7 linked regions of the Homo sapiens genome follow. The main gene of each other region encodes a partner of the protein of the gene in region 3 in a complex. Each region holds a gene or a part of one and is shown on either strand. Other genes may lie near its edges.

Evidence for each region.
Region 1: PLRG1 (region 3) and SNRPD1 share a complex: the UniProt entries of both Homo sapiens proteins name them as parts of the minor spliceosome.
Region 2: PLRG1 (region 3) and BUD13 share a complex: the UniProt entries of both Homo sapiens proteins name them as parts of the minor spliceosome.
Region 4: PLRG1 (region 3) and PPIL2 share a complex: the UniProt entries of both Homo sapiens proteins name them as parts of the minor spliceosome.
Region 5: PLRG1 (region 3) and CRNKL1 share a complex: the UniProt entries of both Homo sapiens proteins name them as parts of the minor spliceosome.
Region 6: PLRG1 (region 3) and DHX16 share a complex: the UniProt entries of both Homo sapiens proteins name them as parts of the minor spliceosome.
Region 7: PLRG1 (region 3) and SNRPD3 share a complex: the UniProt entries of both Homo sapiens proteins name them as parts of the minor spliceosome.

The regions. Positions count from the first base shown.
Region 1 is NC_000018.10:21,625,814-21,629,313, forward strand, and holds part of SNRPD1 (small nuclear ribonucleoprotein Sm D1), read left to right. Parts: intron 1-3,248; coding exon 3,249-3,325; 3' UTR 3,326-3,500. UniProt on the Homo sapiens protein: Plays a role in pre-mRNA splicing as a core component of the spliceosomal U1, U2, U4 and U5 small nuclear ribonucleoproteins (snRNPs), the building blocks of the spliceosome.
Region 2 is NC_000011.10:116,748,988-116,752,487, forward strand, and holds part of BUD13 (BUD13 homolog), read right to left. Parts: intron 1-3,500. UniProt on the Homo sapiens protein: Involved in pre-mRNA splicing as component of the activated spliceosome. As a component of the minor spliceosome, involved in the splicing of U12-type introns in pre-mRNAs.
Region 3 is NC_000004.12:154,543,901-154,547,400, reverse strand, and holds part of PLRG1 (pleiotropic regulator 1), read left to right. Parts: intron 1-336; coding exon 337-390; intron 391-1,187; coding exon 1,188-1,278; intron 1,279-1,477; coding exon 1,478-1,565; intron 1,566-2,854; coding exon 2,855-2,956; intron 2,957-3,500. UniProt on the Homo sapiens protein: Involved in pre-mRNA splicing as component of the spliceosome. Component of the PRP19-CDC5L complex that forms an integral part of the spliceosome and is required for activating pre-mRNA splicing.
Region 4 is NC_000022.11:21,676,012-21,679,511, forward strand, and holds part of PPIL2 (RING-type E3 ubiquitin-protein ligase PPIL2), read left to right. Parts: intron 1-3,500. UniProt on the Homo sapiens protein: Has a ubiquitin-protein ligase activity acting as an E3 ubiquitin protein ligase or as an ubiquitin-ubiquitin ligase promoting elongation of ubiquitin chains on substrates.
Region 5 is NC_000020.11:20,038,967-20,042,466, reverse strand, and holds part of CRNKL1 (crooked neck-like protein 1), read left to right. Parts: coding exon 1-142; intron 143-841; coding exon 842-901; intron 902-1,700; coding exon 1,701-1,781; intron 1,782-2,618; coding exon 2,619-2,858; intron 2,859-3,500. UniProt on the Homo sapiens protein: Involved in pre-mRNA splicing process. As a component of the minor spliceosome, involved in the splicing of U12-type introns in pre-mRNAs.
Region 6 is NC_000006.12:30,666,507-30,670,006, reverse strand, and holds part of DHX16 (pre-mRNA-splicing factor ATP-dependent RNA helicase DHX16), read left to right. Parts: intron 1-2,679; exon of another isoform or gene 2,680-2,822; intron 2,823-3,193; exon of another isoform or gene 3,194-3,500. UniProt on the Homo sapiens protein: Required for pre-mRNA splicing as a component of the spliceosome. Contributes to pre-mRNA splicing after spliceosome formation and prior to the first transesterification reaction.
Region 7 is NC_000022.11:24,569,499-24,572,998, forward strand, and holds part of SNRPD3 (small nuclear ribonucleoprotein Sm D3), read left to right. Parts: intron 1-2,417; coding exon 2,418-2,479; 3' UTR 2,480-3,500. UniProt on the Homo sapiens protein: Plays a role in pre-mRNA splicing as a core component of the spliceosomal U1, U2, U4 and U5 small nuclear ribonucleoproteins (snRNPs), the building blocks of the spliceosome.

The sequences.
Region 1 (3,500 bases), on a different chromosome or scaffold from region 3:
GTTAGCCAAGCGGTCTCGATCTCCTGACCTCATGATCCGCCTGCCTGGGCCTCCCTAAGTGCTGGGATTACAGGCGTGAGCCACGGTGCCTGGCCCAAAATCTTTTATCTACTGTGTTTTCTCTGCTTTTCTTTGTTCCTCTGGGTAGTTATCATTTTTGTTCCTTTTCTATCATAAATACTATTTCAGAAGAAATTGAAGGTAAGTGTGGTCAATTTGGCCCATTTTAACGTGTTCTAGACTTACAGTTTTTGTGTGTACACATTTAAAATAGTACGGTTTAAAATAACTGAAATTGGCCAGGTGCGGTGGCTCATGCCTGTAATCCCAGTACTTTGGGAGGCAGAGGCGGGCAGATCGCCTGAACTCGGAAGTTCGAGACCAGCCCGGGCAACATGGCATGAACTTTGTCTCTACTAAAAATACAAAAATTAACCAGGCATGGTGGCAGATGCCTGTAATCCCAGCTACTCGGGTGGCTGAGGCAGGAGAATTTCTTGAACCCAGAAAATGGAGGCTCCGGTGAGCCGAGATTACGCCACTGCACTCCAGCCTGGGTGACAGAGTAAAACCCTGTCGCCAAAAAAAAAAAAAAAAAAAAAGGAAACTACAACAAATTAAATAATGAAAATGAGTCTTCGTTTCAAGTTTGTCATAGTCTAGTGTTAGGGAGTTATTTAAAAATTATTGGTTTGGGCCAGGTGTGGTGGCTCACGCCTGTAATCCCAGCACTTTCAGAGGCTGAGGCAGCTGGATCACAAGGTCAGGAGTTCAACACCAGCCTGGCCAATGGTGAAACCCCATTTCTACTGAAAATACAAAAATTAGCCAGGTGTGGTGGCGGTCACCTATAATCCCAGCTACTCGGGAGGCTAAGGCAGGGAATTGCTCGAACCTGGGAGGCAGAGGTTGTAGTGACCCGAGATCGCACTACTGCACTCCAGCCTGGACAACAGAGAGAGACTTGGTCTCAAAAAAAAAAAAAAAATTGTTTTGTTTGTTGTTTGTTTGGTAAGAGACAAGATCTCACTGTGTTGCTCAGGCTGCAGTGAAGTGGCATGATCATAGCTCACTGCAGCCTCAAACCCCTGGCTTCAGGCTGTCTTCTGCGTTGGCCTCCCAAATGTTTGGATTTTTTTTTTTTTTGAATAAACATTTATTTTCTTTCTTTAAAAAAAAAAAAAAGAAGCAGCAGCTGGGCGCGGTGGCTCACGCCTGTAACCCCAGCACTTTGGAAGGCCGAGGCAGGTGGATCACCAGCCTGGCCAACAGAGTAAAACCCCATCTCTACTAAAAATACAAAAAAGTAGCTGGGCGTGGTGGTGGGCGCCTGCAGTCCCAGCTACTCGGGAGGCTGAGGCAGGAGAATCGCTTGAACCCGAGAGGCGGAGATTGCAGTGAGCAGTTGTTTTCTTAATTTATCTTTCTTTTTTACAGATATGCACCACCAAACCTGGCTAATTTTTTATTTTTTATTTTTTTGTAAAGACAGGGTCTCCCTATGTTGTCCAGGATAGTCTTGAACTCTTGGTCTCAAACAATCCTCCTGCTGTGGCCTCCCAAAGTGCTGGGATTATAGGTGTGAGCCACCATCATACCTGGTCCATTTTCTTTTCTTGGGTTTTTTTTTTTTTTTTTTTTTTTGAGACAGAGTCATGCTCTGTTGCCCAGGCTGGAGTGCCATGGCGCGATCTCCACTCATTACAACCTCTGCCTCCCAGGTTCAAGCAGTTCTCCTGCCTCAACCTCCCAAGTAGCTGGGATTACAGGTGCCCAGCCCTTTTGTTGTTGTTGTTGTTGTTGTTTTACAACACCCCTCCAACTCTGTTTTTCCCATTTTCTTTATTTTTTTAAACACTTCATTTTGAAATAATTTTAGACACAAAAAGTTGCAAAAATAGTACAAGGAATTCCCATACACTTTTCACCAAGATTGTCTAAATGTTAAAATGTCATATAACTACAAAAAATTAGAAATTTTACATTGATGTGTCACTACTGTATTATCTAGAGACCTTTCTCACATTTCTCTGATTGTCCCTTTAATGTCCTTTTCCTGGTCCAAGATCCAATCCAGTACAACAGGTTGCATTTACTTGTACGTTTCCTTAGTTTCCTTTAATGCGTATCAGCTGGTTCTCCTCAGTTTTCCTTTTGTGACCTTGATACTTTGTAAGAGTACGGGCCAGTTATTTTGTGAAATGTCCCTTAATTAGCATCTTAAACTTACTATTTATTGCTTAGAATGGTAAGACTAGAATCAGTGTGTACAAATTTCTAATGTGGCCAGGTGCGGTGGCTCACACCTGTAATCCCACCACTTTGGGAGGCTGAGGCTGGAGGATTGCTTTGGCCCAAGAGTTTGAGAGCAGCTTGGGCAACAAAGGGAGACCTCATCTCTACAAAAATTTTAAAAATTAGCCAGACATGATGGTTTGTACCTGTAGTCCCAGCTACTCAGGAGGCTTAGATGGGAGGATCACTTGAGCCCAGGAGTTCAAGGCTGCAGTGAGGTGTAATTACACTCCAGATGGGACTACAGAGTGAGACCCTGTATTTAAAAAACAAAAACAAAAACATTTAGAATGTGACTGACTTCTATGTCAAGATTTTCTAATATTCTTAGCTGTCTGAAGATGAAATAAGTTTATTTGGGTCATGAATTCCCTATCACCATGATACTCAACTAGAGTTAGGATGACCCAGTAGGGATATTACTATTTGGATTAAAGCACTAGATTATGTGTAGGTCAAATGAGTTTTAATTTTCTGAAGAGTTAATAAGATTGTGATTTGATGTAATACATTTAAACTTTCCTGGTTTTGAATTAACTTGCTTGGATTTTATTCAGTTACCAAAACTCTGGCATCAAGGTGATCATGTTTTATTCTGTGATATATATCTTCCCTTTTTTTGTGAGGTTCAAATCATTTTATGGTGAATTTGAGACATGATATAAAGAAAAAGTATTTTTAAATTTGACACATTTCTTAGTAAATAAATTGAAATGAAACAAATAATAATCTCCCTAGGCCTTTAGTTATTGGTTCTGCATGATAATGTGTTGGGGGGTGGAGGGAATCTGAAGTCTAACACATTTAACAGAAGCTAGTTAAACTTTATTTACTGTAGCTACTAATAAAGAGCTATAAACAGGGAAAGGTGTGTGTGTAAATGTTGTTTGTGGTGTCTAGGTAACATTGGTGCAGGAGAGAATTGAACTTGGTTTGTTTTTCTTTTCCTTCAGTTGCAGGAAGAGGCAGAGGAAGAGGAAGAGGAAGAGGACGTGGCCGTGGCAGAGGAAGAGGGGGTCCTAGGCGATAATGTCTCTCAAGATTTCAAAGTCATATGAGATTTGGGATATTTTTTGTACAGGTTGTGTTTGTTTATGTCAGTTTTTAATAAACATAAATGTGGGACAGAGCTGTCTATTTAGTATATCAAAGTTTTAGTAGTTTCCTCCACATTCACGAAATTACCACAGTGAGAGCTAAGCATT
Region 2 (3,500 bases), on a different chromosome or scaffold from region 3:
AAAAAAAAAAAAAAGAAAGAAAGAAACAAAAAAGAAAAGAAAATATTTAAGGCATATGCAATAGAATCAAAGGGACAAAATATATCATTCATCCTTTTCTTAGTCCTTGTTCACACCCTTCCCCCACTCTGACAGCTATTTCAAACGTTTGCCACTCTAAAAGCCTGGTTCTCTCTCAGCTGATGTCCACATCTTATATTTTATCCATTCATTACACAAACATTTATTGAATTTTCATTATATACTAGGTACCATGGTAGACACTACATGAAAATGAGTATGACACAGCACCTGTCCTGATGAACTCCCAGACTAGTGGAAGAGAGAGACATTTAAACAAATAAATTAAAAGAACAGCATAAACTCTGGTAGAAATACGCATGGGGTGTCATGGAAACAGAATGGGTATCTTAATCAGCTTGGGGGAGGTATGATAAAAAGGTGACATGAGGGTTGGGCAAGAATGATCAGTAAAGGCTCTGTGTTAACTACAGCACTGGGGATGGAAGGGCCAGAAAGGGTCTGGAGGTCATTTCAGAACAGAATGAGCAACAAGAACAAAGGCACGGAAATAAGAAGTGGCCTGGTATGTGCAGCAAACCAAAGGCAAACTGGTATGGCTGGAACCTGAAGTATGACAAAGGGAACAGCCATGAGTCAAAGTTGGAAAGGCGCAGAGGCCAATGCATAATGAGCTGCGTAGGCCATGGTAAAAAGCTTAGATTTCATCCAGAAACGATGGGTTTAAAGCAAGAACTTAAACTGCATTTCAAAGAGATCACTCTGGAGGGGATCTGGGGCAGGAAAATCACTGCAATGGTCCAGGCAACAGATGATGAAGGCAATGATAAAGAGGGACGGAAGAGAGAAGACACAGGAGGCAAAATTAGTAAGACTAATTAGCAGCACTAATTGATTAGGTACACAAGGACAAAGAAGGAGGAGGCAAGTTAGAGAGCACAAGAGTAGGAGCAGGCTTACAGTAGAAGCTGATGAGTTCAGCTTTGAATACAATGCATTTGAAATCTCTCAAGTCTAAATCAATAGAGAAATCCAACAAACAGCTAAATACACCAGACCAAGATGCAAATACTGATTTGGAAATCATGTACATATAGGTCATAGTTGAAAACATGACTAGGTAAGAATCAGCCAGAGGGAGCACATAGAGTGAGAACAGCTAAAAATTATGGATGGAGCCCTGGGAAAGACTTAAGAGGTGCACAGAGGAAGAGGAGTTTGCAAAGGTGGCCAAGAATGATCAGAGAAAAGAACCAGGAGTAGGGTGTCATGGAAAACAATACAGGGGTGAATTTCAAGGAGGTAGTGAGTGGACCTCAAATCCCTTTAATTACCATGCATTCTCTTGGTCTTCTTATCTAAACTTCTTAAAAAGCCTGTATTCACTATTTGTTTCCTCACTTTTCATTCACTCCTTAATACATTAGAACCTGGCCATTGTTTCACTACACAACGGAACTAGCCCTTTCAGGTCATCACTGACATTCCTTGTTGCCAAATCCAATGACTCCTCCTTCCTCTTCCCCAAATCAGCAAACAGGTCCCACCAGCTCACCCCTGACCACATCCCCACTTCCTATTCTCTTACTAACCATCCTTACTACCACTGCCTGCAAGTCGTAGTTCAGACACTCATTACTTTCAGCCTGAGCTACTGCAAAAGCCTTGTATCTGTTCTACTTCCAATCTTGTACCTTTCAAATCCTTCATATTACTGCTATAATGGATTTGTCTATCTAAAATGCAGAGCTGTTTTTAATCCTTCCGTGTCTCCCCTTTACCTCTAGGGTGAAGACCAAGCTCCTCAGATAGGCTTCCAGGGCCTTCTGTGATCACGGTCTGCCAACCTCTCTCATCCATCTCACGCTTTATGCTATCCAACAACAGCAAATTACTTAGGGACCCCCACCACCTGGTAACACCATGGTGTCTCATAGCCTTATGACTCTGCACATATAGGACCCTCTTCCTTTAATATCCTTCCTTTCCTTCTTATCTTGGCTGGTTACCAACATCCCTTAAAACTCAGCTCCCACATTTCATCCGTTAGGAAGCACTTCCTGATCACTCACATCCTCCTAAGGCTCAACTTACTCTTCCTTTGTGCTCCCAAAACATCTTGAAAATCTTCTATAGTAACACTAACCAAACAGCGTTGAAACTGTCTGTCTTCTATTCTAGATTGAAAGTGAGCTCCTGGGCTCAGGGGCTATCTCTCTTTAATCATGGAATCCCTAGTACCTACTACCTAGCTGCTTACACTTATAACATGTATGCTAAGACTTTCCCTTAAGGGATGAGTGGAGTGAGTAACAGAGGGCTTTAAGAAGGGAAGCTTGGCCGGACATGGTGGCTCACGCCTGTAATCCCAGCACTTTGGGAGGCCGAGGCAGGTGAATCACCTGAGATGAGAAGTTCGAGACCAGCCTGGCCAACATGGTGAAACCCTGTCTCTACTAAAAATACAAAAATTAGCTGGGCGTGGTGCTCACGCCTGTAATCCCAGCTACTCGGGAGGCTGAGGCAAGAGAATTGCTTGAACCTAGGAGGCGGAGGTTCCAGTGAGCCAAGATCGTGCCATTTTGCACTCCAGCCTGAGCAACAAGAGCGAAATTCCGTCTCAAAAAAAAAAGAAGGGAAGCTTATTATAAATGGCATCCTCTCCAACCTTAGAAGCATGGATGGTATTCCAAAGCACCAAGGAAACCACTGTTTTTTACCTTGGAAATAAGGTCTTAAGAGAGTTACACTAATATGATAATACAAAGGACATATGAATAACAAACACCAAATCCTAAGCAGAATCAGAAAACAAATTGCAGGAGAACTCACAGTGGAAAGAGCTTTGGACCAGAGAATCAGGAACGCAGAGTTCTAATTCCAGCTTTCTCAGGGAAATTGCATGACTCTAGGCAAACTGCTTATTTATTGGGCCTCAGTTTCTCTTTTTTTTGAGACGGAGTCTTGCTCTGTTGCCCAGGCTGGAGTGCAGTGGCACGATCTCGGCTCACTGCAAGCTCCGCTTCCCGGGTTCACGCCATTCTCCTGCCTCAGCCTTCCGAGCAGCTGGGACTACAGGCGCCCGCCACCACGCCCAGCTAATTTTTTGTATTTTTTTTAGTAGAGACGAGGTTTCACCATGTTAGCCAGGATGGTCTCAATCTCCTGACCTCGTGATCTGCCCGCCTCGGCCTCCCAAAGTGCTGAGATTATAGGCATGAGCCACCGCACCCGGCCCCGTTTCTCTTTCAATTAAGAGAGGCTGGGTAATTATCTTATGGGTTTTTCCAACAGATACTATATATCTGTTCCGGAAATATTCCCTTGCAGCAGGCCGAAAAGAGACAAAACTAGAAAAGATGATGAAAGATGAATAACAAAAAGAAAGCAAGGGTGACAAAGGGAAATAAGAGAAGAAATCTAGGATAAAATCAGAACAAGAAGTGGAAAAAAGCAACTGAGAAAAATGAAGACAAATT
Region 3 (3,500 bases):
AATTCAGAAAGATGAAATTAAATACTGAAATCTTAATAAGTAAAGAGAATTCAAGATTCCACAGGAAACCATTTGCTTGGAAGAAATACCAGAGTGGATTGTCACTTGATAGGAGGGCTTCTTTGTATACCATTGCTATATAGCAAATGGTCAAGGACATGGTTTACAGAGATCAAAGCAAAAGTGATCAACTTCCCTTATTTCTGAGGCTTGACTTTAGTTGAGAAAATTTGATAGATCCAGTTGAAAACTTAATATTACTTGATACATTTAAAGAGATGATAACTTTTGTATAAGGTAAATTCACTACTGTTGATTTTTTTTGTGTTTTTTTAGGACAAGAAGTTGAATACTTTGTGGCAGGTACACATCCATACCCACCAGGACCTGGTTAGTGAGCTGTTATATATTGAAAATGTCTTAAAAATGTCACATATATTTTCACTAACGAGCCAATAATGAGATTCTTGTTGCCTATAAAATGCAAGATAAGCTCAGTAGCCAAGCATCCATGCATAGCTTTGTAGGTAATAATGAATACTCATATGCCTTCATTCAGCAAACATTCTTAAGTACGTATAATTTTTCAGGCAATGTGCTAGGAATTCAAAGACAGTAAAACTGTTGCAGGCCTAGTTATTTATTATCTGGTGGTTTAGGCAGACATGTAAATATCACTAAGCTTGTAAAAATGATGGAAATGTTAGAAGCAGTATCTGAGAAACATGTCCTCTGTCTGTATTAAGGCATTGGTCCACAGATGGAGTGGCCAGTGTAACAGGGTAGAGGACAAAAGGCTTAGTATGTAAAGAAAGTACAGGGAAATTGGGTGTTTCTAGTTTTAGTAAGTTACATCCACTCTTGGAAACATTCTGTTAGTATTTGAGGAACTGCTTAATACTGACTTGAAACTAATACCCAAATATAATGGAAATTAACTTTACTATTCTGGGCTGCTTTAATACCATGTGGGCTGTGATCAAATCAAATTTGAGTTACGTGTTATTAAGCAGTATTTATTGTAGAAATTAAAAACAAAGATGAGCAAAACTTAATCAAATTTGTATAATATCACTGCCTGGAGATAATAAACATTTGGTGTATGTTTTCCTTCATCATTTTATTTTAAGTGCATGTAAATGAATAATACACAGCTACTAAAAGAAGTTGATTTTTCATTTTAATAGGGGTTGCTTTGACAGCAGATACTAAGATCCAGAGAATGCCAAGTGAATCAGCTGCACAGTCCTTAGCGGTGGCATTACCTTTGCAGACCAAGTATGAAATATTATAATTACAAAGATCTTAAAAGCATATTTCACTGTTCACATTTTTTCTTTTTAAAATTTCTTTATAACTATTATATGACATTTTCCTTTATCAGGACTTTATAACAATTTAAAATAAAGGGTTAGTTTTGCAGAATACATGACTGGAGGCATTAATTACTTTGAAAATATTATTTCTTTTGCCCCAGGGCTGATGCAAATCGTACTGCCCCTAGTGGAAGTGAATACCGACATCCTGGGGCTTCTGACCGTCCACAGCCTACAGCGATGAATTCAGTAAGTTTTTCTGCATCAAATAGCAGGTTTCTAACTTTTGGAACATGTTGCCATATTTCCCTCTTCTTTGGAATTATTAAGATAAATAGCAGCCTGAGCTAGTCATTCATATTTCATAGCCCTAAAACTCAAGTTGGTAGTAAATTAACGTATTTTTTGGAATTTAATTCTGTTATTTGTCTACTTGTACATTGTGTGTAATATATATTTTGATAAAGATAATGTGATGTTGGTATTTATTGCCCACTATTAAAAATGCAAGGAGAGTTTTTCTGAAACTTGTGTTAGTATGTATTGAATATGAAAGTCTTTTTTTTTTTATTAAATTTTAAGTTGGTGTGTACAGTTATCTTGAGTGCTGTTAGTGTTGTACTATTCATGGGCTATACAACTAGTCTTATAAATGAGCATTTAGAAATAAGTTTATCTGTTTGTAAGTAAATGGCAACTGGTATTAGTATGGTAGAAATAGTTGTTGAATTTTCTATAGTTATTTTATTGATTTATCTGCAGCATAATAAAATATGCTGCCACTTGAAATAAGTGCTGGTTTTGCTTCTCAGCTCATTATGCAATTGATTTGACTTTATGAAGTGAATGAATGTGTAACTGCCACATCTCCTTTCCTCCTTTATTCCATTCAGAGCACGTCTTCTGTCCAGGCTCTCTACCCTCCTTATGAGGGTATAATTTAAGCTTCTTGAGGGCAGGAACTTTATGGGCTTATTTATGTTTTGGATGACTAGATGACTGCTAACAACAGATGGTATATCAGGCAGTATACCTGTTAAAATAGTATTTAAATATTGTATTAGAAGATAAATAGAAGGAACTGTCAGTCTTTGCTATATTAAACCAATAATGTTAAAATATGACAATGAAAGACAGTGGCACTAATACACTTAAAATGACTTTAATATTGGGAGCTTACATGGAGCATTTACTACTTATTAAATCTTTGTAGTAACCCTATGAAATAGGCACTATTCTTCCCATTTTACAGGTGAGCCACATAGAGGTTACATGATTGTTACCTAATGTCAAACAGCTAGTAATTGGCCAAGCTGGGTTTTGAACCCGTACACAGTGATGTGTGCTCTTAAGTCTAATGCTCTGCCTGTCTGTGATTTTATAATTGCTTTTTTAAGTTAACATACAGAAAATTGTATTTCTTCATTTATGGAAAAATTCTTTTGTAAGTTCCCTCTTTCCATTTCCATTTCTGAATTGATATCATGAAGCCTTAGGTATGATGTCTTTAATAATAATAATGTCTCTTCTATGTCTAGATTGTCATGGAGACTGGCAATACCAAGAACTCTGCACTGATGGCTAAAAAAGCCCCTACAATGCCAAAACCCCAGTGGCACCCACCGTGGAAACTCTACAGGGTGAGTGACTCTGCATTTATTTTATTATGTGAACCATGATTGCTTTGTAGTTGACAAGCACTGAAGAATAGAATAAGGAGGAAAAAGAGTGAATATGAAAAGCTGGTAGAGCGATCTGAGGTGGATTGAGAAGAGTCGTAGGGAGTATCTTAAAAGATCTCTTGGGAAGGTGACTTCCTTAAGCAAAAGTTATACTTTTATATAAAATAGTATGAAATGTCAAGATAAAGCTACTAAATATGGATGGCAGACTAAATAAATGTAGAAAAAGTGTTCAAAGTATTTAGTTTGAAGGTGAAGGGGAAAAACACCATATAAAGAAATTTATTTGGGCCTACCAGTTACTCTTTCAACTACAATAAATGAAAATGATTCAGAGTGTATCATCTAAAAGAAAATGGACATGCATGCTAACTTCAGCAGCACATACACTAAAATTGGAATGGTACGGAGAAGATGAGCATGGCCCTTCCACAAGGATAACACAGATTCGTGAAGTGTTCCATACTGTTTATTTTGCATTGCTTGCCTATACCAAAATATC
Region 4 (3,500 bases), on a different chromosome or scaffold from region 3:
GCTTAGGGGTTGTCCTTGCTTACTGGGTGCATGCATTCCAGGGAGATGCTGTAGCACCTGAGGCCAAGGCCCTTTTGCCCCGCTTGTCTGAGCCCAGAGCCCGGTCCCCAGTCGGTGCAGCATTCGCAGGTGAATGAATGGGTGAACCTCAGCACGTCATTGACGTCGGTGGAGGACACGGCGCTCCACCCTGGTGGCCGAGGGTGGGCTGCCTCCCCTCCTGTGATCAGCAGTGTGTGTGTGTGTGTGTGTGTGTGTGTGTGTGTGTCTCATTCAGCAAATATTTATTTATTTATTTTGTGTGTGTGTGTGTGTGTGTGTGTGTGTGTTATTGTTTATTTTTTATTTCTCCAAACCTCTTTTTTTTTTTATTGATCATTCTTGGGTGTTTCTCACAGAGGGGGATTTGGCAGGGTCATAGGACAATAGTGGAGGGAAGATCAGCAGATAAACAAGTGAACAGAGGTCTCTGGTTTTCCTAGGCAGAGGACCCTGCGGCCTTCTGCAGTGTTTGTGTCCCTGGGTACTTGAGATTAGGGAGTGGTGATGACTCTTAACTAGCATGCTGCCTTCAAGCATCTGTTTAACAAAGCACATCTTGCACCGCCCTTAATCCATTTAACCCTGAGTGAACACCGCACATGTTTCAGAGAGCACAGGGTTGGGGGTAAGGTCATAGATCAACAGCATCCCAAGGCAGAATTTTTCTTAGTACAGAACAAAATGGAGTCTCCTATGTCTACTTGTTTCTACACAGACACAGCAACAATCTGATTTCTGTATCTTTTCCCCACATTTCCCCCTTTTCTATTCGACAAAACCACCATCGTCATCATGGCCTGTTCTCAATGAGCTGTTGGGTACACCTCCCAGATGGGGTGGCAGCCGGGCAGAGGGGCTCCTCACTTCCCAGAAGGGGCGGCCGGGCAGAGGCGCCCCTACCTCCCGGACGGGGCGGCGGCCAGGCGGGGGCTGCCCCCCACCTCCCTCTTGGACGGGGCGGCTGGCCGGGCGGGGGCTGCCCCCCACCTCCCTCCCGGACGGGGCGGCTGCCGGGCGGAGACGCTCCTCACTTCCTAGACAGGGCGGCTGCCGGGCAGAGGGGCTCCTCGCTTCTCAGACGGGGCGGCTGCCGGGCGGAGGGGCTCCTCACTTCTCAGACGGGGCGGCCAGGCAGAGACACTCCTCACCTCCCAGATGGGGTTGCAGCCAGGCAGAGGCGCTCCTCACATCCCAGACGATGGGTGGCTGGGCAGAGACGCTCCTCACATCCCAGACAGGGTGGCGGCCGGGCAGAGGCTGCAATCTCGGCACTTTGGGAGGCCAAGGCAGGCGGCTGGGAGGTGGAGGTTGTAGCTAGCCGAGATCACGCCACTGCACTCCAGCCTGGGCAACATTGAGCACTGAGTGAACGAGACTCCGTCTGCAATCCCGGCACCTCGGGAGGCCGAGGCTGGCAGGTCACTCGCGGTTAGGAGCTGGAGACCAGCCTGGCCAACACAGCGAAACCCCGTCTCCACCCAAAAAATACGAAAACCAGTCAGGCGTGGCGGCGCGCGCCTGCAATCCCAGGCACTCGGCAGGCTGAGGCAGGAGAATCACGCAGGGAGGTTGCAGTGAGCCGAGATGGCAGCAGTACAGTCCAGCTTTGGCTCGGCATCAGAGGGAGACCCTGGGGAGCGGGAGCGGGAGAGGGAGAGGGAGGGACAGCAAATATTTATTGAGTGCCTGCCATGTGCAGAGAGCACAACAGGCTGTGTCTCTCCTGAATGAGAGGAGCATGCATTCTGGTGGGGGAGAACACCAGAGAGCAGCTCAGCAGGGTGTGCCAGAGGCTGCTTGTGTGTGTAGAGCACAGCAGGGGGAGGGGAGAGGGCCGCCCTGACCCGCTGCAGGGAGGGAGAGCCGTGTGGGCATCGGGGGAGTGCAGGGCCAGGCTGATGGCACAGCCAGTGCAAAGACCCTGAGGTGGGCGCACGCTCAAGGGTGTCTGTGCCCAGCTGGGAGTCCAATGTGGCTGGAACAGCGTGTGCTAGCGGTGGAAGCAGGGGATGTGGTGACAGAGGTCAGGGGTGGGGATGGTGTGCAGAGCAGTCCTGTGGGGCCTGGGAGCCACAGGAGGACTTGGGCTTCCGCTCCAAGATGAGAGCCACTGAGGGAGGAATGAGGTCCAGCCTTTTTTTTTCTTTTAAAACTTTGACCTGGCAGTCAGCTTCTTTTGTTGTGTTTCCTTTTTTCTTTTGAAATGAGGTCTCTGTCACCCAGGCTGGAATGCAGTGGCACAGTCTCAGCTCACTGCAACCTCTGCCTCCTGGGCTCAAGAGATCCTCCCACCTCAGCCTCCCAAGTAGCTGGGACTACAGGCACCACCACTGCACCCAGCTAGTTTTTGTGTTTTTTGTAGAGACGGGGTTTCACCATGTTGGCCAGGCTGGTCTCGAACTCCTGGGCTCAAGTGATCCACCTGCCTCAGCCTCCCAAAGTGCTGGGATTACAGGCGTGAGCCACTGCGCCCCACCTGTTTCTTTGTTAATTGGAATTCCCCGTGCGTGAAAGTGGAGTGAGGAGGTGTGATACGCCTCCCCTGTGCCCATCATCAACTCCAGCCCCTGCTGTCTCCCATCTGTGCAGTTCTGTCTTTGCTCCCACCAGTACCCCCTTGCATGATGCTGAAGCCCCAATTTAAAAAACAGTTTTCACATCAGAAGGATTTTTGTTTGTTTGTTTGTTTTTGAGACATGGTCTTGCCCTGTTGCCCAGGCTGGAGTGTAGTGGCATGATCAGAGCGCACTGTTGCTTCGACCTTCCAGGACCAAGTGCTCCTTCCACCTCAGTCTCCCAAGTAGATGGGACCACAGGCATGTACTACCATGCCCAGCCAATTTTTTTTTTTTTTTTTTTTGAGATGGAGTTTCGCTCTTGTTCCCCAGGCTGGAGTGCAATGGCGTGATCTCGGCTCACTGCAACCTCCGCCTCTTGGGTTCAAGCGATTCTCCTGGCTCAGCCTCCCGAGTGGCTGGGATTACAGGCATGTGCCACCACACCTGGCTAATTTTGTATTTTTAGTAGAGACGGGGTTTCTCCATGTTGGTCAGGCTGGTCTCAAACTCCCGACCTCAGGTGATCCTCCCGCCTCTGCCTCCGAAAGTGCTGGGATTACAGGTGTGAGCCACCGCGCCCAGCCCCAGCTACTTTTTTAATTTTTATTTTTGTAGAGATGAGGTTTCCCTATGTCACCCAGGCTGGTCTTGAAGTCCTGGGCTCAAGTGATCCTCCCGCGTCAGCATCCCCCCACCAAAAAAAAACAGCTGGGCACCATGGTTTACGCCTGCAATCTCAGCACTTTGGGAGGCCAAGGTGGGAGGATTGCTTGAGCCCAGGAGTTCAAGACCAGCCTGGGCAACATAATGAAACCTTGTCTCTACAAAATGAAACCTAAAAATTAGCCAGTGTGGTTGAGCACACCTGTAGTCCCAGCTACTTGGGAGGCTGAGGTGGGA
Region 5 (3,500 bases), on a different chromosome or scaffold from region 3:
AAGTGACGCAGAAGCTGAAGCCGTGAGAGAAGTCTATGAAAGGGCCATTGCCAATGTCCCACCCATTCAGGAGAAGAGGCACTGGAAGCGCTACATTTATCTTTGGATCAACTATGCACTCTATGAAGAATTGGAGGCAAAGGTGAAAAAACAGAATTATGTGTCAGCTGATAATGGTTTCCTGTCTTCTGTATTCACAGCTCACCTATTGTGGATGTTTGTAATTCTTGAAAGAAGGAAATTTAGTTTTAAATTTTTATAGGCTTCTGTTCATCCATACAGTTATATATTCGCTCTGCAACATTTTAAACCCTCTGTGCTTGTTGTGGCCACACGTGAGGGGCTTTTTTAACTTTGGTTTGATTTTTACTTGAGGCACAACAAGATATCACTTGGAGCTTGAAAGAGAACAGTGAACCAGCCCTTAATTTAGTGAAATATAGTTTCCTGGATTTGCTCATTAATAGGAGTAATTCTGGCTAGATTATGCATTTTTGCTTTTAGCAAAAATCAAGTGGCATTTTCAGAAATCATTTGTATTAACCTTCTGGGTTTGATCTGAGACTATGAAACATCTTTGTTTCTTTCTGCCATCAGGCAAAACGGCTTTCTACAAAGAAGGGCTTAGAAGTTTGGTGGCTATCTTGTTGGTGATTCTTAAACTGAAGTTTCATGGCCGTTCATACTTTAGATCATAAATCAGGGTTTGCAAGTAACAACTTGTGAAACATGCTGTTTTGGGGGTGTACATTTTTACCAATATCAGTAAAATTAGTAACTAGTAAAATGAGTGTTAGCAGCAGACTTCAATATTTTGTGAAAATTTCTTATCCTAATACAGGATCCTGAGAGGACAAGACAGGTGTATCAAGCCTCTTTGGAACTAATTCCTCACAAAAAGGTATGTTTGCTCTAAAGTGTTCCATTTCAAACAGGTCAGAATCCTCTTCTGTTACTTGTGAAGTAATTCAGTGAAATAATATTGATTGATAAAATGCTTCCCTGTCCCACCATGGACAACATAAATAAGACTGAGATATGCTCCTTGCCTCTGAAAACAGCTCACAGACTAGGTTGGAGGACAACCTGCATTGACAAACAAATAATATAAATTCAGAGAAGGCTAGGTAATGTGAATAGTCTGAGTGGAAGGAGAAAGACATCCATGCAGAGAGCACACAACGTGTGCGGGGGACACACAGGCGGGTTTGTTGGTAACAGTGAGTGTGTGCATGCACAGATGAATGTGCCCCTTGTGTAGATGGTTGAGATGTTACCTCCGCCTTGTTTCCCAGCACGAGAAACAAAACGTGTTTCCTTCTGTAGAAGTGTTGACTGAGTTACTTTTCAGAATAGAGGTAGGACATTCTGCCCATATACAAGCATGCCTACAAAACAAAGTCTGTTCTGAGCAGAGGCTACCGTGCCATACAGTACAGTACAGTATCTGGATCATGGTTCTCAGGAGAGGTTACCATGCCATGCAGTACAATATAGTATCTGGATCATGGTATGTGGGTTTCTAACTTTTGTGAAATGAATGTGGTCTTTGCTTGTAAATAAGCAGAGTACATTCCTCTTACTCTGAAGTTTTAGAGAAATCGAATTACCAATGGCTTTGGTTAATTTAAATTAATTTTAATTCAATTTAATTTGGATGAGGCTTTTAAGCTAGATATTTTTGTGCTTTTGTTTTCTAGTTCACATTTGCCAAAATGTGGATACTGTATGCACAGTTTGAAATACGACAGAAGAATCTGTCATTAGCCAGAAGAGCATTGGTAAGTAAAGAAAGGATCAAGATGTCTCATCAAGTTCTATGAGAAAGAAATTAAAATCTTGGTGCTTGGAAGTTGTACAGTTCCTACTTTAAAGAGTGACAGAAGTATTATACCTTTATAGCCTGGGACATGTTAGAAAACATGCGTCCTCTGTAAAAACACTGACTAATAATGCGTAAATTATTCTTATTACCTGGGGCAAATTAACATTCTGTTTCAATATTGGAAACTTCTATAGCTACCAGTTACTAAATCTTTCCACAGACTGGAATTAGTAATCTGATCCTGTGCAAACTTTTTGGTGTGTTAAATGCACTTTTAATTGTTCCACTTTTTTTTTCTTTTTTTTTTTTTTGTTTGTTTGGTTTTTTTTTGAGACAGGGTCTCGCTCTGTTCCCCAAGCTGGAATGCAGTAGCGCGATCTTGGCTCACTGCAACCTCTGCCTCCTGGGCGGAAATGATCCTCCCATGTTGGCCTCTCAGAATGCTGGGATTACAGGCATGAGCCACCATGCCTTGTCCTTTTTATTTATAGGAGGTTTTATGCATTTGACATCCCTATTCCCTAGGAGATCCTGAGAAACTTTCAAATCTTATTTTATTTAGTTGCCCAAACAATTCTGGAACACTGCCTCTTGCTGAGTGAATTAGAGGAGTTTCCTTCAGCCTTTTGTCAAGAACCAGTAAACATTGTGATACCACAGAGGGAAAGAATGGTAGGCCATGTTGACTTTGCAAGATTCTTCCTCAGCAGAGAACAGCCTCTAGGGCAGTGCAATAACTGCACAGATTAAATCCACTACAGTATCACAGTGGTCTGGTTATTTTATTTTCCAGGGAACTTCCATAGGCAAATGTCCAAAGAACAAATTATTTAAAGTTTACATAGAATTGGAGCTACAGCTTCGAGAATTTGACAGATGCCGGAAGCTTTATGAAAAGTTCCTGGAATTTGGACCTGAAAATTGTACCTCATGGATTAAATTCGCTGAATTAGAGACAATCCTTGGTGATATTGACAGAGCACGGGCAATCTATGAATTAGCCATCAGTCAGCCACGTTTAGACATGCCAGAGGTGAGCATCTCAAGTCAAATATAATTTTGTTTGAGATACGTGTTTAGTCTTACTTTAGATGACCATCTAAATGTGGGTGTATTTTAGAGTATAACGATGATCTAACTAACTTAGTCTCTTCTACTCAGATTAGGCTTGTACGTGGAAAGGTGGCTGTGGGGGACAGGGGAAGTAGCCCTCTCATTAGATACCAGAGCAGTAGACATCCAGGATGATGCCCAGGATGAACTGGGATATCATGGGGGTGGGTGACGCCCCTTCTGCAGCAGGAAAGCCTAAAGGGGCTGGGGAAGAGGCCAGGCAAGGAAGAAGCCAGCAGGCTGGCCCACCCGGAGAACGAGGGGGATGGAGGTAGGAACTGCACATCCCTGTATTCTCTAAACCAGGATGTCCTTGCAACTTCTGTTGTCACTGTCCTGAAAGTCCTCGCCTGCCTTCAGTAGTTAAGCTTGACCCACAAGGTAGCACCAAACCACAGCTAGGAAAGATTTGAATCTCACATGAGTCGTAGAACTCACCCAGCCGTTTTGTTAATCTCATGCACTAACATGACCCTGCATTTAATGGTTTGGCCCCCTGATTGCATTAATTAAGGCAGGGCTTTGGGTATCACTGAGTTCATCAGTTGTCCTCGGCTCCTCC
Region 6 (3,500 bases), on a different chromosome or scaffold from region 3:
TAGGCACACCATCTCCAAATACCTTCCCACCACCTAATTCCTGCACCCCTTATGTGGCTTTGTGATCTCCCTGTGTCTTCTCACTGGACAGGGACAGAGCCCTTGTAATTCATAAACTGGACTTTTTATGGTGTGAAACTAGGTAGGGTAAGCTGTTTTCCAAAGGCCTGGTCTTGTCAAGTAAAGTCACACTTAGATTCCCCAATACCCCAATAGAATTTTGAGACTCTTGAAGTTCCTTTTTTTTTTTTTTTTTTTTTTTAAACCTTTTTTCTTTTTTTTGAAACGGGGTCTTGCCCTGTCACCGAGGCTGGAGTGCAATGATGCGATCTCGGCTCACTGCAACCTCCGCCTCCTGAGTAGCTGGGATTACAGGCGCACACCACCACGCCTGGCTAATTTTTTGTACCTTTAGTAGAGACGGGGTTTCACCATGTTGGCCAGGGTGGTCTCGAACCCCTGACCTTGTGATCCACCTGCTTTGGCCTCCCAGAGAGCTGGAATTACAGGCGTGAGCCACCATGCCCAGCCTTCTTTTTATTTGTTTTGTTTTATTTTTTATTTTTATTTATTTATTTTTGAGATGGAGTCTCACTCTGTTGCCAGGCTGGAGTGTGGTGGTGCGATCTCAGCTCACTACAACCTGTGCCTCCCTGGTGGAGGAATCAAGCGATTCTCCTGCCTCAGCCTCCTGAGTAGCTGGGACTACAGGCCTGCAGTACCACACTCGGCTAATTTTTTGTATTTTTAGTAGAGGAGATTTCATCATGTTGGCCAGGATGGTCTTGATCTCTTGACCTTGTGATCTGCCCGCCTTGGCCTCCCAAAGTGTTGGGATTATAGGCATGAGCCACTACGCCTGGCCGTTTTTACTTTTTAAAATTCATTTATTTATTTTTTTGAAACAGAGTTTTGCACTTGTTGCTCAGGCTGAAGTGCAGTGGCGTGATCTTGGCTCACTGCAACTTCCACCTCCCGAGTTCAAGCGATTCTCCTGCCTCAGCCTCCAGAGTAGCTGGGATTACAGGCATGAGCCACCTCGCCTGGCTAATTTTGTATTTTTAGTAGAGATGGGGTTTCTCCATGTTGGTCAGGCTGGTCTTGAACTCCTGACCTCAGGTGATCCACCTGCCTCGGCCTCCCAAAGTGCTGGGATTATAGGCGTGAGTCACCACGTGCCCGGCCAACTTTTGGAGTTCTAAGAATGGCCTACTGGTTCCCAGGTCTCTCCTGACCAATTTATCTCATATCTCTTCCTGAAATTGACTGTGGTTAGGCTTCTGGGACATCTCAGTGCAGTTGTGGTGGTAGTGGTGTTACTGTTTTGGCCTGAATTTAATTTTTCGGGTTTTTTTTGAGACAGAATCTCATTCTGTCGCCCAGGCTGGAGTGCAGTGGCATGATCTCGGCTCACTGCAACCTCCGCCTCCCGGGTTCAAGTGATTCTCCTGCCTCAACCTCCCGAGCAGCTGGGACTACAGACATGCACTAGCATGCCTGGCTGATTTTTGTATGTTTAGTAGAGATAGGGTTTCACCATGTTGGCCAGTCTGATCTCAAACTCCTGACCTTTGGCGATCCACCCCCCTCGGTCTCCCAAAATGTTAAGATTACAGGCGTGAGCCACTGTGCCCAGCTGTAATTTTTCTTTTTCGATTACAAAAATATTTAAGCACATAGGGAAGTTGAAAGAATAGAACAAAGAACACTCATAGACACTATTCAGATTGAAAAATGGTTAATACTATGGGTAGTATTTGCATTGTAATTGTAAATGTGGTATGTTTTTTCTTTTCAGACCATTTAAAAGAGTCTTAGACATCATGGCGTTTTATCTCTAAGTACATCAGTGTGTACCTGCTAAGGATAAAGATATTGTCCTCTAAAATCAGAATGCTCTTGTCACAGTCAGGAAGTTGAACAGTAATTCTTATGTATCGACTAAGATCTCTCTACAATAAAAGATACCCTCATTACCCTCAAAATAACTTTAATGACTGCTTTTTCCTAACAAGAATGCAGTCAAGGTTCATGCATTGCATTTGGGTCTTAGATGTTAAGTTTGTTTCTCTCTCTGTCTGTCTCACCTTGCAGTGTCCTACATTCTGGATTTGCCTGATTCTTATCTTGTGGTGTTAAGTACTTCTCTGCCCTGTGCTTTCTTTGAAGCAGGAATTGGGTCTAAAGCTTATTGACACTCAGATTAAACAGTTGTGGCAGGAACACTTCTTGGGCGGTGATGTGCACTTCATATTATGTCATATCACGGGGACATACTATCCAGTTGTGTATCTATATATTAGTATTAATATCCTTTCTACCAATAGCCTTTCATCAAATGCTTTTAGAAGCCACTGGTAATCCTTTCCTGAACATGTTATTTTTATTGGGGATTGCAAAATGGTGATTTTTTTTTTTTTTTTTTGAGACAGAGTCTCGCTCTGTCGCCCAGGCTGGAGTGCAACGGTGCGATCTCGGCTCACTGCAAGCTCTGCCTTCCGGGTTCATGCCATTCTCCTGCCTCAGCCTCCTGAGCAGCTAGAACTACAGGCGCCTGCTGCCACGCCCGGCTAATTTTTTGTATTTTTAGTAGAGATGGGGTCTCACCATGTTAGCCAGGATGGTCTCGATCTCCTGACTTCGTGATCCTCTTGCCTCAGCCTCCCAAAGTGCTGGGATTACAGGCGTGAGCCACCGCGCCCGGCCGAAATGGTGATTTTTTGATTCTGTCATTCCTGTTACGTGTATTGGCTAGAATTTGTCTATAAAGAAGAGCTTTTCCTCAACAACTAGGAACAAGCTACAGTTCCTTCTTAAAAAGGGTAAATGTTTGTTTCCTTTTAAATACGAATTTTTAGAGTAAGGCGTTTGCTGTAACAGTCATTTCACTGGTGACAGATTTTTTTCCCTTGTTTTTTGTTTGTGTGTGTCAAATTGGACTCATGAATTTTTATTTTTCAGTATTTTATAATCTCACATCATTATTCTTTTTAATGCTCAAATGGCTCTGATTTTTTGCCCATATTAAAAAAAAAATCTATCTGGCTCTTCCATGGAAGGAATATTTGACTGTGGTACCCAGATTAGGTCATGATCATAAACTGCATTTTAAGTCTTTACAGAACAAACAAGAAAAGCCAAACAACTAAATAGAACCAGGCCCCTTAAGGGTAGAACAGCAGAGGGGCTTTTTTTTTAAAGATGCAGTTTTGTTCTTGTTGCTCAGGCTGGAGTGCAATGGCGTGAGCTAAGCTCACTGCAACCTCCGTCTCCCGGGTTCAAATGATTCTCCTGCCTCAGCCTCCCGAGTAGCTGGGATTACAGGTGCCCACTACCATGCCCAGCTAATTTTTGTATTTTCAGTAGAGACGGGATTTCACCATGTTGGCCAGGCTGGTCTCTAACTCCTGACCTTAGGTGATCCACCCACCTCAGCCTTTCAAAGTGCTGGGATTACAGGTGTGAGTCACCACGCCCACCCAGCCACCAGAGGGGCTTTG
Region 7 (3,500 bases), on a different chromosome or scaffold from region 3:
ACAACAATCAACAAAGACTTCTGTGACCAAGCAAGCAGTCAGTTCTGCAGTAGACACCAGCTGGGTGTCCTTCAGTTCTGACACTATCTACCTGGAGATAGCCTGAAAAACCACAGGTTGAGGGCTCGGTCCCACAAGACAGCCCCTGCACCCCCCACTATTATTCATAAGCACAGGCCTCCAGAACATCTGAATGGCTTCAAGCCAGGGTTCTCACGTCTCACTCCTTGGGTTCGATTAATTTGCTGGAGTAGCTCACACAACTCGGGAATCACATACTTAAATTTACTGGTTTATAACAGGATATTTTATAGGCTACAAATAAACAGCCACATGAAGAGATGCATAGGGTGAGATCTGGAAGGGTCGCAAGCACAAGAGCTTCTAGCCCCATGGAGTTTCCTCCCGGCACATGGATGAGTTCTTGTTCACCTTCCTGTCAGGCTGCGCATGATCAGCTGTCCCGAAGCTCCCCTAACCCTGCCCTCTTGGGCCTTTTATGGAGACTTTATTGGATAGTCATGATTAAAGGATGGACAACCATGTGGAAATGCCATTAGACAAAATGGGTGTGATCTAACACTAATAGACGGGGTTGGGAAACCCCGCGAGGCCTGTCCAGATTCTTTTTGGCCTCTCTCTGCAGCATTTGTTCCTCCAGGGTATAGGGCAGGACCTTTCTCTGGAGTGAGGTCTTATGACCCACAATCAGATTAGGGTCCTGCCTTGGGCAGGTGAAAGGAGGGCAGGAGAAGTTTCAAGAGAGAGATTCTGTCTCCTGAGTCCTGCTTCTGAGGCCTAAAGTGCCCCAATGTTATAACAAAAGACTATAACAAGGACTATAGGAGTTACGAGCTGGGAACCATAGATGAAAGCTCAAGTTTAAAGATGTAATAGTGTGAGGGGCCGGGCGCAGTGGCCCATGCCTGTAATCCTAGCACTTTGGGAGGCCGAGGTGGGCAGATCACGAGGTCAGGAGTTCGAGACCAGCCTGGCCAACACAGTGAAACCCCGTCTCTACTAAAAATACAAAAATTAGCTGGGCATGGTGGCAGGTCCCTGTAGTCCCAGCTACTCGGGAGGCTGAGGCAGGAGAATCGCTTGAACCCAGGAGGTGGAGGTTGCAGTGAGCCGAAATCGTGCCACTGCACTCCAGCCTAGGTGACAGAGCTAGACTCCATCTCAAAAAAAAAGAATATTTTATTTGTTCTTCAAAGCCTGTCTTCTCCTAGAACCCCTGGGTTACAGAGGAGAACAGCAGTCTTATCATGCTATTTATATGGAGTGTGTTTTCTTTTTGCTACTATGAAATAATTCTTTTTTTTTTTTTTTTTTTTTGGAGACTGAGTCTCCATCACCCAGGCTGCAGTGCGGTGGCTTGATCTCAGCTCACTGCCACCTCCTCCAACTCCCAGGTTCAAGTGATTCTCTTGCCTCAGCCTCCCAAGTAACTGGGATTACAGGCGCATACCACCACGTGCAGCTAATTTTTGTGTGTTCAGTAGAGAAGGGGTTTTGCCATGTTGGCCAGTCTGGTCTCAAACTTATGACCTCAAGTGATCTGCCTGCCTTGGACTCGCAAAGCCCTGGGGTTACAGACATGAGCCACTGCACCCAGCCTGAAATAATTATTTTCTCAGAAAAAAATACAAAAGATAATATAACCCTTCTCCCAGATCTAACACATGTTAACACTTAACTATATTTGTTTCAGAATTGAAAAAATTAATTCAGTGCATCTATAATGTTTTTCAGCTCACCCAAGGCCAGCCCCAAGGATTTGTCTTTTCTGTAGCTCTCAGACCACCTTCTTTGCCCTCAGCATGCTGCCTCCCAGCCTCTTGTAGAGAGCAGTGTGGGACTGGAAGGCAAGAGTGTGCTGCTAGCTCCTGCTTTGATGCCAGTCCCCAGCCCCTGCCCCTCCGTCTCCATCCCCCCTGTTAAATGCAGTGGCTGTCAGCTGGACGTGTTGGCTTATGCTTGTAATCCTGACACTTTGGGAGGCCGAGGTGGGTGGATCACCTGAGGTCAGGAGTTTAAGACCAGCCTGGCCAACATGGTGAAACCCTGTCTCTACTAAAAATACAGGAAATTAGCCGGGCGTTGTGGTTCACGGCTGTAGTCCCAGCTACTCAAGTAGGAGGCTGAGACATGAGAATCGCCTAATCCCAGGAGGTGGAGATTGCAGTGAGCCGAGATCATGCCACTGCACTCCAGCCTGGGTGACAGAGTGGGACTCCGTCTCAAAAAATAAAAAAAAAAAAAGGCGGGAGGTGGAAATGCAATGGCCAGGGTGGTGTTGGACCAGGTAACCCTTCAGAACCCTTCTAACTGGTGTCCTAGGGCCCTGGCTACTCTGTGCTATGAGCATTCACCGACCACACTGACCTGGCCTCATATTTTCTCTTCCCTTTCAGTGGCCGCAAGAGGAAGAGGACGTGGAATGGGACGTGGAAACATCTTTCAAAAGCGAAGATAATTTTCTAAGTTGAACAGAACTTTGTCCTTTTTTCTTTCAGGTTATCTGAGTTCATTGGAGTGGGTGCTTGTGCATATATGCTAGGTATCTTTTGCCATCTTTCTCTTTAGATCAGGGGAAATGTTTAAGCTAAATAAATCTGGGGGGTTTTTTGTTCTGTTTTGTTTTGTTTTCTTTGAGAAAATAAGGACTTTGTGTTCATTTGAAGTTTGCTTTGGCTAAATTTTGACACCCTGGGGGATGTCCTGGGAGAATGCCAGTACTTTGAAATAGCACAGCTATTGATGAGATTTTAAGCTGCTGTTCCTGGCCAGTTGCAGGTTAAGCCCCAGAAAAGTTCACCTTGGAGAAGCTCCGAGAACACACAGATTGTGTCTCATTCATCTTCAGACACAGGCACATAGTGTGGCACTTTGTTCAGTTAACATTTGTGGAGCTGTCATCAGCTCAGCTTTAACAACACAGGTGACTCTTTCCCTTGATAAAGTCATAGGTAATTCAGGGGCTGGGTGCGGCGGCTCACGCATGTAATCCCAGCACTTTGGGAGGCCAAGGCGGGCGGATCACGAGGTCAGGAGTTCGAGACCAGCCTGGCCAATATGGTGAAACCTCGTGTGTACTAAAAATAAAAAAATTAGCCGGGTGCGGTGGCATGTACCTGTAGTCCCAGCTACTCGGGAGGCTGAGGCAGAAGATTCGCTTGAACCCAGGAGGTGGACATTGCAGTGAGCAGAGATCATGCCACTGTACTCCAGCTTGGGTGACAGAGCGAGACTGCACCTCAAAAAAAAAAAAGTAATTCAGGGGATCCTAGTGGCCAGCTTCCTTGGCTCGTATACTGGCTACAACAAGTAGTTTTGTGGTGATTTGTGGAAACAGATTCTTGGGAGCATATCAGAGCATCTCAGCATTGATTGGCACATCCATAGTTGTTAATGTAGGAAGGGTGACCAGCAGCTCAGCACAGTGGCTTGCTTCCAGCACTCTGGGAGGCTGAGGTAGAGGATTGTTTGAGAGGAGT